Homo sapiens: one gene and its partners. Changing the gene in region 2 together with the main gene of any one other region gives a genetic interaction. Each region holds a gene or a part of one and is shown on either strand. Other genes may lie near its edges.

Evidence for each region.
Region 1: changes in ATP1A1 (region 2) and TCOF1 together harm fitness more than expected from each alone (negative genetic interaction), as found in Homo sapiens cells (one large-scale study listed by BioGRID).
Region 3: changes in ATP1A1 (region 2) and PDSS2 together harm fitness more than expected from each alone (negative genetic interaction), as found in Homo sapiens cells (one large-scale study listed by BioGRID).

What each region holds. Positions count from the first base shown.
Region 1 is NC_000005.10:150,374,591-150,378,240, reverse strand, and holds part of TCOF1 (treacle protein), read right to left. Parts: intron 3,625-3,650; coding exon 3,430-3,624; intron 3,288-3,429; coding exon 3,078-3,287; intron 2,903-3,077; coding exon 2,687-2,902; intron 2,521-2,686; coding exon 2,332-2,520; intron 2,160-2,331; coding exon 1,911-2,159; intron 1,819-1,910; coding exon 1,621-1,818; intron 1-1,620.
Region 2 is NC_000001.11:116,390,153-116,393,802, forward strand, and holds part of ATP1A1 (sodium/potassium-transporting ATPase subunit alpha-1), read left to right. Parts: intron 1-60; coding exon 61-259; intron 260-629; coding exon 630-739; intron 740-2,701; coding exon 2,702-2,836; exon of another isoform or gene 2,837-2,874; intron 2,875-3,378; coding exon 3,379-3,571; intron 3,572-3,650. UniProt on the Homo sapiens protein: This is the catalytic component of the active enzyme, which catalyzes the hydrolysis of ATP coupled with the exchange of sodium and potassium ions across the plasma membrane.
Region 3 is NC_000006.12:107,449,510-107,453,159, forward strand, and holds part of PDSS2 (all trans-polyprenyl-diphosphate synthase PDSS2), read right to left. Parts: intron 1-3,650. UniProt on the Homo sapiens protein: Heterotetrameric enzyme that catalyzes the condensation of farnesyl diphosphate (FPP), which acts as a primer, and isopentenyl diphosphate (IPP) to produce prenyl diphosphates of varying chain lengths and participates in the determination of the side chain of ubiquinone.

The DNA of each region.
Region 1 (3,650 bases), on a different chromosome or scaffold from region 2:
GAGGACTCTGGCAGCATCTCAAGGCCCCTGCCTCACTCAGGGATGGCATCTGGTCAGTGTCAGAAAACAACCCCATCCCCCAGCATTCCTCAAACACATGAGGTCAAATGAGGTGAAGAATCAGGACTTCAAGAAGATTCCCTACAGTGTGGACCAAGTATGACTCAGGCCGAGGTGCTCATCAGTAGAGCACGTAAATCCTCCAGAGGGGAGCCATGTTTTCCACAAGAAACAAGACACAAGACTGACTTGACCTAACAAGTCTCAATACACAAAAAAGGATTTAAATCATACAAAATATGTTCTCCAACCACAATGTGACTAAATTAGAAATCAACAAAAAGAAACCTGGGTAATCCCAGATATTTGGAAATTAAACGGCTTACTTCAAAATAGCCCATGGTTCAAAAAATAAAAATAAAACACCCACCTCATGGTACAGGTGGGAGGCTCAGAAGGGAAGACAAATATTTAAGTGAGCTGCATAATGAAACTCTGTAAGGCATTGGGTCTGGAATGTGCCTGCAGCTTGGGAAAGAGTAGAGGCGGCTCTGGAAGGGGCCCCTGCAGAGCTTAAAAACCTCAATGGAGGAATTCTAGAGCCCTGAGGTCCCACAAGTCAACGAGAGGAGGACAAAAAAAAATCAGTAGAAATGTGTGCTCTGGTACAGAGAAAAAAGAAATGACTAATTTCTGAGTGGTTACAGAAAAAAACAGAGCGACAATTAAAAATAATAAACAGTGGGTGGGTGAGTGCAGGGAGTGAGCCATCTTCTCTCAGCTCTTCCAGGCTTGGAGACCTCACTCCTGATCTGTTCCACATTAGCCTGGCCCATCGTCAGGGTGACAGAGACAACTTGCTGTGTGCAGCTCCCTTGCTGGGTGTAGCAGGTGAGATCTCACCTAAATTCTCACCCAAACCTGTGAGGGCTGATTTCCTGTTTATAGGAGAGTAAGGGCTCTGAGGGCTTACAGCACTTGCCAGGCTGTGGAGCTGAAACTTGAACCCAGGCGGTCTGGCTCTAAACAACTGCCAGCCATCCCACCACAATGTGCCGCCTGTGGCAAGGCACCCAAGCCAGGCACTCTCTCATTCCCTGGCCTCGCACAGACTGCTTCCTCTGCCTGGAACACTCTCCCTGCCCATTTCACCTGGCCAACTCTTTCAGCCCATGGCTCAGATGCTGCCACCTCCTGTAAAAGGCCTAGATGCTCTCACCTGTCATGCTGCGCAGCCCAGGCTCACACCCTCTATCTCAACCCCATCGCTCCACACTGCAGGAGCATGTCCATGCTCCACAGAGACAGGACTTCCCTGAGGAACAGCGCCTCAGCAACCCCAGACAAGGGCAGCACCTGGCAGGGTGGGAACTCCAGAGCTTGTGAAAACCACAGGGAATCAATCAGCAGGAGGACCTCAAAAGGCAAACAAGACAGAGACCCTGGAGCTCTGATGGGCAGAGGAGACATGGAGTGAAAGATAGGGAAGGAAGCTGTGTTGAGGCTACCTCTGAGGCTTCTGCACACCTGCAGGCAACACTAGCCCCCAGTCAAGCCCATCCTCAGCCCTGGCTCAGGAACAGGTGTGGGTGGGATGGGCCTGCTCCTTCTAGGCCTCACCTGTGCTGGAGATGCAGCTGCTTCCTCACTGTCTGATTCCTCCTCACTGCTCTCAGAGTCTTCCTGCTTTTCAGCTTTCACCTGGGTGACTGTAGGCCCCGTCTTCCCAGGGAGTACTGGAGCAGTCCCTTGCCCCAAGGACCCCTTGACAGGCACTGAGGCTGCTTTCACCTGGAGGCCTTTCCCCACAGACTTTGCCTGGGATGACAAGGGGAAGAGAGGTGTCTCCAGGAGTCCAAAGGACCACGTAGGGGCGGCCCTGAGGCCCGCCCAGAAAACACAGGCCTCACCTGTCCCACGGTTACTGCAAGACCTGTCTTCTCTTCCTCACTATCTGATTCCTCACTGCTTGAAGAATCCTCTGCTGGTCTCTGGGTGCCCCCAGCCACAGCTGGGGATGAGCCTGCTGGAGAAGTCGCAGTTCCTGCTTTCCGGGGGGCTTGGGTGCCCACTCGCACAGGGGCGACCTTGGCAGATGCAGTGGTATTGGTTTTCTTTGGGCAGGCCTTGGTCTGAGGAATTTTCAGAGCTGGTTTTGCCTGAGGGGACACCAAAGAAAGGCTGGAGAAGGTTCCTGAACTCAGAGTCCCCCATCTGTTCTGCCCCACCAGCCAAAACCCATGCTCTGCCTGAGGGAGCACAGCTCCCCGGGGGTGCTGACTGTGGTGTGGCAGATCAGGCCATGTAGCAGCCTCCTTCCCCAGGCCTCACCTGAGCTGCAGTCATGGCTGCTGGTGCCTCCTCACTGTCCGCACTGTCCGATGACTCCTCGCTGCTCTCCGAGTTGTCCATGGGCTTTTCAGCCTTGACCTGGACGGCTACAGGCCCTGCCTTCTGAGGGGGCCCCTTGGCAGGACTGGAGGTGGGTTTGGCCTGGAGGATGTTCCCCAAGGACTTTTCCTGGAGTGAGATACACAGGATCGGGAGAGGGAGCCCAGGGTAGGTGTGTGCAGACATTAAGAAACTAAGATTGTAGACAGAGTCCCAGTGTGAGGTTGGGAGGCCACAGGCAGCTCCACTCTGAGTGGGGGGGAAAAAGAAAGAGCCTTACAGGAAGGGGCCTCACCTGAGCCGGGGCCACAGCTGTGGGCACCTCTCCATCACTGCTGTCTGATGACTCCTCACTACTGCTCTCTGAGTCCTCCTCCCACTTCCCCACCTGGGCTGAGGGGGTTGCAGGCCCCACCTTCCCGGGTGGCACTGGGCCGGCGCCTTTCCCCAAGGGCCCCATGCCCATGGTAGAGGCAGGTTTCACCTGGGGGCTTTTCCCCAAGGGCTTCACCTGGGAGACACAAAGGACAAGATTAGGGAGGGAGTCCAGAAGGAGAATGTGAGTGAGGGGAGGAGAGCAAACGAAGCCAGCCGCACAGGGCTCTAGGTTCAGAGAGGAAAAGTCAAAACCACAGGAGGTCTTTTGAGGCAGGGCACAGGCCATGCAGGGCGGCTTCCAGCCTCACCTGAGCTGCATTCATGGCTGCCAGTGCCTCTCTGTCACTGTCTGACTCCTCGCTGCTGCTTCTTGAGTCCTCCTCCTGCTTCCCCACCTGGACCTGGGCGGCTGCAGGCCCTGTTTTCCTAGGAGGTGCTGGGGCAGCCCCTTTCCTGGGGGACTCCTTGGCAGGGGCCGAGGCGGCTCTGACCTGGGGGGCCTTCCCTGAAGGCTTCGCCTGGAGTGAGAAACAGGATGAGGGGAGAGCCCAGAGGGTGGACGTGTGGAGACAGGAGCTGGATGTGGCAAAGGTGGCCACACCCATGCAGGTGCTGGGGTTTAGGCATGGGGCTACTCTCCACCCCTCCCCTCTGCCTCACCTGAGCAGGCGCCTCCTCCTCACTGTCCGATTCCTCGCTGCTGCTCTGCGAGTCCTCCTCCCGCTTCCCCGCCTGGGCCTTGGCAACTGCAGGCCCTGTCTTCCCAGGGGGCGCTGGGGCAGCTCCTTTCCTGGGGGACTCCTTGGCAGGGGCTGAGGCAGCTCCGACCTGAGAGGTTTTTCCTGAGGCCTTCGCCTGGAGAAACAAGACAAGGGGAGACA
Region 2 (3,650 bases):
GAATCTGTATAGAATTCCAGCCTGGTTGAGTGAAGTAATAATCTTCCTAATATTTTTTAGGTCTGTCTGACACTTACTGCCAAACGCATGGCAAGGAAAAACTGCTTAGTGAAGAACTTAGAAGCTGTGGAGACCTTGGGGTCCACGTCCACCATCTGCTCTGATAAAACTGGAACTCTGACTCAGAACCGGATGACAGTGGCCCACATGTGGTTTGACAATCAAATCCATGAAGCTGATACGACAGAGAATCAGAGTGGTAAGGCCAGGGTTACCACACACCTCAGCCACCTGCTGACTTCGCTTGGTTTTTTTTCTTTTAAGAAATTGCATGAAATTTCTTTTTTTTTTTTAAGCTCATGGCAGCTTTTTCTTTCTTTTTTGTTTTTTTTTTTTTTATCATTTAGTGAAGAGTCAAGGGTATGGGATATTGATTTTTTGCATGTCAGTAGAAACTTTAAATTGCCCTACAAACGTGACTGAAGAATGCCTAAAATGTGATTGGTTTCATTAATTGGGAAATGAGATGTATCACTGCAGATTTCTATGGGACTTTAATAGGAGAACTGAGAACACAGCCTTTGAAGTTAATGCATTGTTGTTCTGTTGTGTTTTCTTGCCTCCATCAGGTGTCTCTTTTGACAAGACTTCAGCTACCTGGCTTGCTCTGTCCAGAATTGCAGGTCTTTGTAACAGGGCAGTGTTTCAGGCTAACCAGGAAAACCTACCTATTCTTAAGGTATGCTCAAGAGTTAACTAATGGAGGGATGTAGACAGCACATGAGAACTGCCATTTGAGTGTTAAAAGTAGCAAATTACCTTTGTGGTCTGTGTGACTGTTCACTGTAGAACACCTGGAGTGGTCTGTGCAGTACTTTGCTGTGTGTAACTTACATTGTGTTGCCTGTAGATCCTGATGTATTATAGGACCCCCTGCTCCATATAGGTTGATTAAAAAGGGAAGATGCAGTAAAAATCTGACCAAAGTGGGAGGGGAGGAGACGGAAGACAGTCTTTATTGGTGAAAAACCTAATTCATCTGCTTTTACTACTCTTGAGTTTATATGTTATCACCTAACCTAGTGGACAGTGAGAGCTGAGGGCTGCAGTGACTCCATAATCGTATTTGCATATTAGGATACAGTAGATTCCAGTAACTCCTTTAAGCCATTTATTTTCCTGAAATAGCTCAGCTTATCTTATCTTATTGGTTCTTAGCTTGTTTACTAATGATGTAAAAATAAGCTCCAGGCCAAAATAAGCCCAGCCTTAGCCTGTGGAATTCTGATGCAGTTTGAAATGATTGAGATTTTACTATGCTGCCCAAGTGAAGATGCAGTCTCAGAAGGATCATGAATTGTACAAAGTCCTGTAGGAGAAGAAAGCTATGTGAGGCTCTCTGGGTCCCACATTCTCTGTGAAGCTGCCTGTAGTAGTTGTGGGTATAAACTAAGTTGCCAAAGGGAATATGGCTTGGATGTAACTCAGATGCCTTCTGTGATGAGGATAGGGTTCATTTATTCTGCAAAGGAGATTTTCTTGGCATTGAATTGATGTTGATTTGAGGATAATGTTGTGTATCTTGAGGATAAAACTTGAGATAAATGTTTCATGTTTTTCTTTACCTCAAAGTGGAAATGTTCTAGGCTTTGAGCATCAGGTCCCACAAGTATCAAATCTTTCCTGATTAAAAAACCCCAGAAAGGTAGCAGAAGCTGTATTCCAAGTATTTCTGGAGTTCGGCCATGTTGATGGCATTATTACTAAAAAGCGGGGAGGGAGAAGCAGCCCTATTCTGCTTTTATTAAAAATGGCTTTTATTAAAATAAGTGGCTTTTATTTAAAATGTCCCCCACTTATTTTGTGTTTCTTTCCAAACCCAGCCAACTTTCTTGCTCTGTGGAGCTGCTATACTTCTGAGCATTGATCTGTTCATCTGCATATGCAGCCTTACATGTTAAGGTTCTAAAAGGTTTACCTATATAAAATTTGTTTACAACTGAAAATGCTTTCAGTATGTCAAAATATAAGTGTGTCATCATGTATCATAGAAAATATGTGTGTCACTGAAGCATGGGCTTTAACTAAAATGTTACGTGGTTCGATTTTATTACTGTTGGAGTTGGTAATAGCTTTCAGTTCACATCCTTCAGGCCCAGTTAATTTTGCACAGTTATGATTAGAATGCACAGTCTTCTACTTTGCCCTTGACACAGGCAGCTTGTCCCCAGTCCTGAGACCTTAAGCATTTTCTTACGAATTCTACGGTAATGAAAGGTGCTATAAATGTTTAATCTCTCACTTGGTATTTTCAGATAAGTAACCAGAAGTAGGTAGTTGGGAATAGCATTGGCTTTGAGACTTTTCAGTAGGCCAGGGGAAGATAGAAATAGACTGCAGTAGGTTGGAAGGGTGTGTTAATACCTCTTCTAGGGAAGGTGACACCTTCCCACACCCTTCTTTCACTAGAAGCTGCTGTGGGGTGGGGAAGGACGTTGGGGTTTGAGTCTGAAGCACTGTGAACAGCAGTGGTCGGGGCTAGAGGGACTCCTGTCCCACTTAACACCGCTGCTTCCTTCTTGCCCATCCTCTGCTACCTCTGACAAGATTGGAATGTGTCTTGAGTTATTTTTCCTGTTTTTTAGTGATGCCTCAGTGAAATTTTTTGGAGATAATTTACAGATGATGTCTCTGTTCACAGCGGGCAGTTGCAGGAGATGCCTCTGAGTCAGCACTCTTAAAGTGCATAGAGCTGTGCTGTGGTTCCGTGAAGGAGATGAGAGAAAGATACGCCAAAATCGTCGAGATACCCTTCAACTCCACCAACAAGTACCAGGTCTGAAGATCGATGGGTACACGGAGGGCGAGGGCAAGCTGGGGGACAAAGAGGGGAGGTACATGAGCAGGAAGAGGAAATATTCTCCCTTTGGAGTTTTATAAGCTTTAGCTTTAAATTTTGCCCTTGATTACCATAGAATGCCATAATTTAGTTGAATATCAGCAGGATAAATGAAGCCTCTTGCAAAACACTGTTGAGCCCTTTTGAATACTTGTGGTTTGGGGTGGGTGTGGGCATGTGGGGAGGTGGCTGGAGGTATGTGTACACAAGTGTTCCCCAATCCCTGTGTTCTGAAATTTCGTATGTTCTTTTTTAATGTGAACAAATGTCAGGAATTTATGAATATATCATAGTGCTCATTTTTTTTTTTTTCTGTAGCATTCAAAGTATGTTACAGGTGTAAGATACTTCAGAGTTCAGAAAGAAGGGATCTTGGGTCTTTTATAGCAAATACTAAATAGTAAGTGAAGCTTTGTTTTCCACCATGGACTGCCACACATCCAACCATCCAATGTTTATGTCTCAACAATCCTTCACAGTTGTCTATTCATAAGAACCCCAACACATCGGAGCCCCAACACCTGTTGGTGATGAAGGGCGCCCCAGAAAGGATCCTAGACCGTTGCAGCTCTATCCTCCTCCACGGCAAGGAGCAGCCCCTGGATGAGGAGCTGAAAGACGCCTTTCAGAACGCCTATTTGGAGCTGGGGGGCCTCGGAGAACGAGTCCTAGGTATGCAGATAACCTGGTAACAGAGTGCCTGGGCACGTTTTTATCCAGTAACCTAGTCTGGTAGACAGTTAACAAGTGA
Region 3 (3,650 bases), on a different chromosome or scaffold from region 2:
ACTCTAGACACTTTATATAAGTGGAATCACACAGTATTTGTCCTTTTGTGACTGGCTTATTTCACTTAGCATAATGTCCTCCATATTTCACTCAGCATAATGTCCTCCAGGTTCATCCATATTATGACACGTGTGCAACCTCAAACACGTGGGCTCAAACGATCCTCCCACTTTGGCCTCTAGAGCAGCTGTCTAGCCAACTTATTTTTAGGAGCCACCATGTCTAGTTAATTTATTTTTTTATAGAGATGGGGTCTCACTGTGTTGCCCAAGCTGGTCTCAAACTCCTGGCCTCAAGTGATCCTCCCACCTCAGCTTCCCAAAGTGTTGGGATTACAGGCATGAGCCACTGTGCCTGGTCCCTCCTTGTTTTTTAAGGCTGAATAATATTCCATGGTAATATATACCACATTTTGTTAATCCTATCAACCATCAATGGACAACTGGGTTGCTTCTACCTCTTGGCTACTGTGAATACTGCTGCTATGAACATGGGTATACAAATATCTCTTTGAGACACTGCTTTCAATTCTTTTGGAAACACACCCAGAAGCAGAATTGTTGGGTCATATGGTAATTCTATTTTTAATTTTTTGATGAATGAGATTGACTTTTTTCACTCAGAATAATTCATCTGAGATTCACCCAAGTTGTTGTATCAGTGGTTCATTTCTTTTTATTGTTGGGTAGCATTTCGTTGTTATGTATGGACCACAGTTTGTTCAACCACTCACTAGGATATGTGGGTTGTTTCCAGTTGGGAAATAATTAAAGACAGAATTAAAACAGTATAACAAACAGTATATATGTAGAGGATAAATTAAAGAAAGGAAAACTATGAATGTAGGGGGAAGAATGTTGAGGAATCAATTCACAATGACCAACTACAAAATTCCAACATGAGAGAGAAAAATGGTGGGAACCATGATACTGAAGAAATAACACACAAAATCATCCCAAAATAAAGGATATAGGATTAAGTTAAGAAGGCCTTCATTCTCCACTCCAAAAACCATCAAGGTGAAATTATGGAACATCATTCTAAAGAAAGGATCTTTCCTCTAGAAAGAACACACAGCCCTATCCAAGCTGTGGAATGAAAATGGCATTAATACAAGAAACTTAACTGCAAAGGAGAAATACATATATGTAGGATTTTCAACCTATAATTCTATAGGTTATGGCAGCCTATTACAAATAAGACTGCCACAAACATTTGTGTATAGGTTTTGGTATGGACATAAGTTTTTATTTCTCTGGAATAAATGCTCAGGAGTCTGATTGCTGGGCTACATGGTAAGTGTATGTTTAAACTGATTGATCAATCAACTGATTGATTGAGACAGGGACTGACTCTGTCACCCACGCTGAAGTGCAATGGCACGATCATGGCTCACTGCAGCCTCCAACTTCCGCGCTCAAGTGATCCTCTTACCTCAACCTCCCAAGTAGCTGGGACCACAGGTGTGCACCACCACACCCAACTAATTTTTTATATATTTTGTAGAGACAGCATTTTGCCACATTGCCCAGGCTGGTCTTGAAATCCTGGACTCAAGTGATCTGCCTGCCTCAGCCTCCCAAAGTGCTGGGATTACAGGCGTGAGCCACTGTGCCCAGTCGTATGTTTAATTTTATAAGAAATTGTTATGCTGTTTTCCAGAGGGGCCGAACCATTTTACATTCCCATCAGCAATGCATGAGAAATCTAGTTTATCTGCATCGTTACTAGAATTACATATTATATTTTTTATTTTAGCCATTCTAATTGGTACATAGTAGTATCCCATTGTTGGTAGAAGAGCTGAGGCAGGACTGGCTTGTCTGTCATAATGTAAAAGAGTCTTGGAAGATGTCCGGGATCCAGGGTCTGAAACCCCTCGTGGCCTTTGGAACACCAAGCTCTGTGCCAAAGGGTGGAAGGCTACACTGCCGCACCACAAATCTAAGCCCAGGGCATAAAACCCCTTGTGGCTTTGATGGAATCCAGGGCTCAGGGCATAAACCCCTCGTAGCCTCTGGAATGTGCACAGACTTGTTGGTTCCTTGCTTCTTTCTTGTAAACATGCCCTCCATTATCTCAAGCAGCAGAGCATATTCTATATGGGTCAAAGGAAGTGCTAAACCGTCACAGCTACACTTAATGCACCACTACCTTTCTACTCTCACCTCCTCATGCCCTCACCTGTTTACCCTCATGTCCTCACCACCTGCTTCTTTGTTTGATCACCAATAAATAGGGCGGGTTCCCAGAGCTCGGGGCCTTTGCAGCCTCCAATCTAGCGCTGGCCCTCTGGACACACCTTATGAACTCTTAACTTGTCTTTTCTCATTCCTTTGACCCCGCCAGACTTTGTAGCCCTCAGGGCCTGGTGTTGGGCCCGATCACCTCAACATCCCATTGTGATTTTAATTTGCATTTCCCAAAAGGCTAATAATGTTGAACATCTTTTCATATGCTTACTTGCTACCTTTATAGGTTTTTCTTTTAGCCCATTTTCTTTTCTTTCTTCTTCTTTTTTGTTTTTTAAGTGACAAAGTCTTGCTCTGTTGCCAAGGCTAGAGTGCAGTGGTACAATCATAGCTCACTGCAGCCTTGAAGTCAAACTCTTGGGTTCAAGGAAGCCTCCTGCCTCTGTTTCCCTAGTAGCTGGGATTACAGGCATGCACCACCGCACAAGCTTTTTCCCCTATTTTCTAATTGTATTGTTTGCTTTCTTGAGTTTAGAGAGTTCTTTTTTTTTTTGCAACAGAGTGTCACTCTGTTGCCCAGGCTGGAGTGCAGTGCCGCGATCTCACTGCAACCTCTGCCTCCCAGATTCAAGTGATTCTCCTGCCTAAGCCTCTGGTGTAGCTTGAACTACAGGCACCCACCACCACACCGGCTAATTTTTGTATTTTTAGTAGAGACAGGGTTTCACCATGTTAGCCAGGCTGGCCTCAAACTCCTAGCCTCAAGTGATCCACCTGCCTCGGCCTCCCAAAGTTCTGGGATTACAGGCATGAGCCACCGCACCCAACCTCTTGAGTTCAGAGATTTCTTTACATAACCTGGATACAAGCCCTTCTTTGAATATGTGATTTGCAAATATTTTCTCCCAGTCTGTGGCTAAACTTTTCACCCTCTTTACAGGGTCTTTCACAGAGCTAAGTTTCAAACTTTTTTTTTTTTCTTGAGACAGAGTCTCACTCTGTCTCCCAGGCTGGCTTGCTGTGGCGCAATCTCGGCTCACTGCAACCTCCGCCTCCCAAGTTCAAGCGATTCTCCTGCCTCAGCCTCCTGAGTAGCTGGGATTACAGGTGCACATCACCACGCCCAGCTAATTTTTGTATTTCTAGTAGAGATGGGGTTTCACCATGTTGGTCAGGCTGGTATCGAACTCCTGACCTTGTGATCTGCCCGCCTCGGCCTCCCAAAATGCTGGGATTACAGGCGTGAGCCACCACGCCTGGCCAGTTTTGAACTTTTATGGAGTCCAATTATTGTTTTCTTTTATGAATTTTTTGGTGTCATGTCTAAGAACTGCTTACCTAGCCCTAGGTCCTGAAGATGTTATCCTATGTTTTCTTTTTTTTTTGAGACTGAGTCTTGCTCTGTCGCCCAAGCTGGAGTGCAGTGGTGCAGTCTCGGCTCACTGCAACCTCCACCT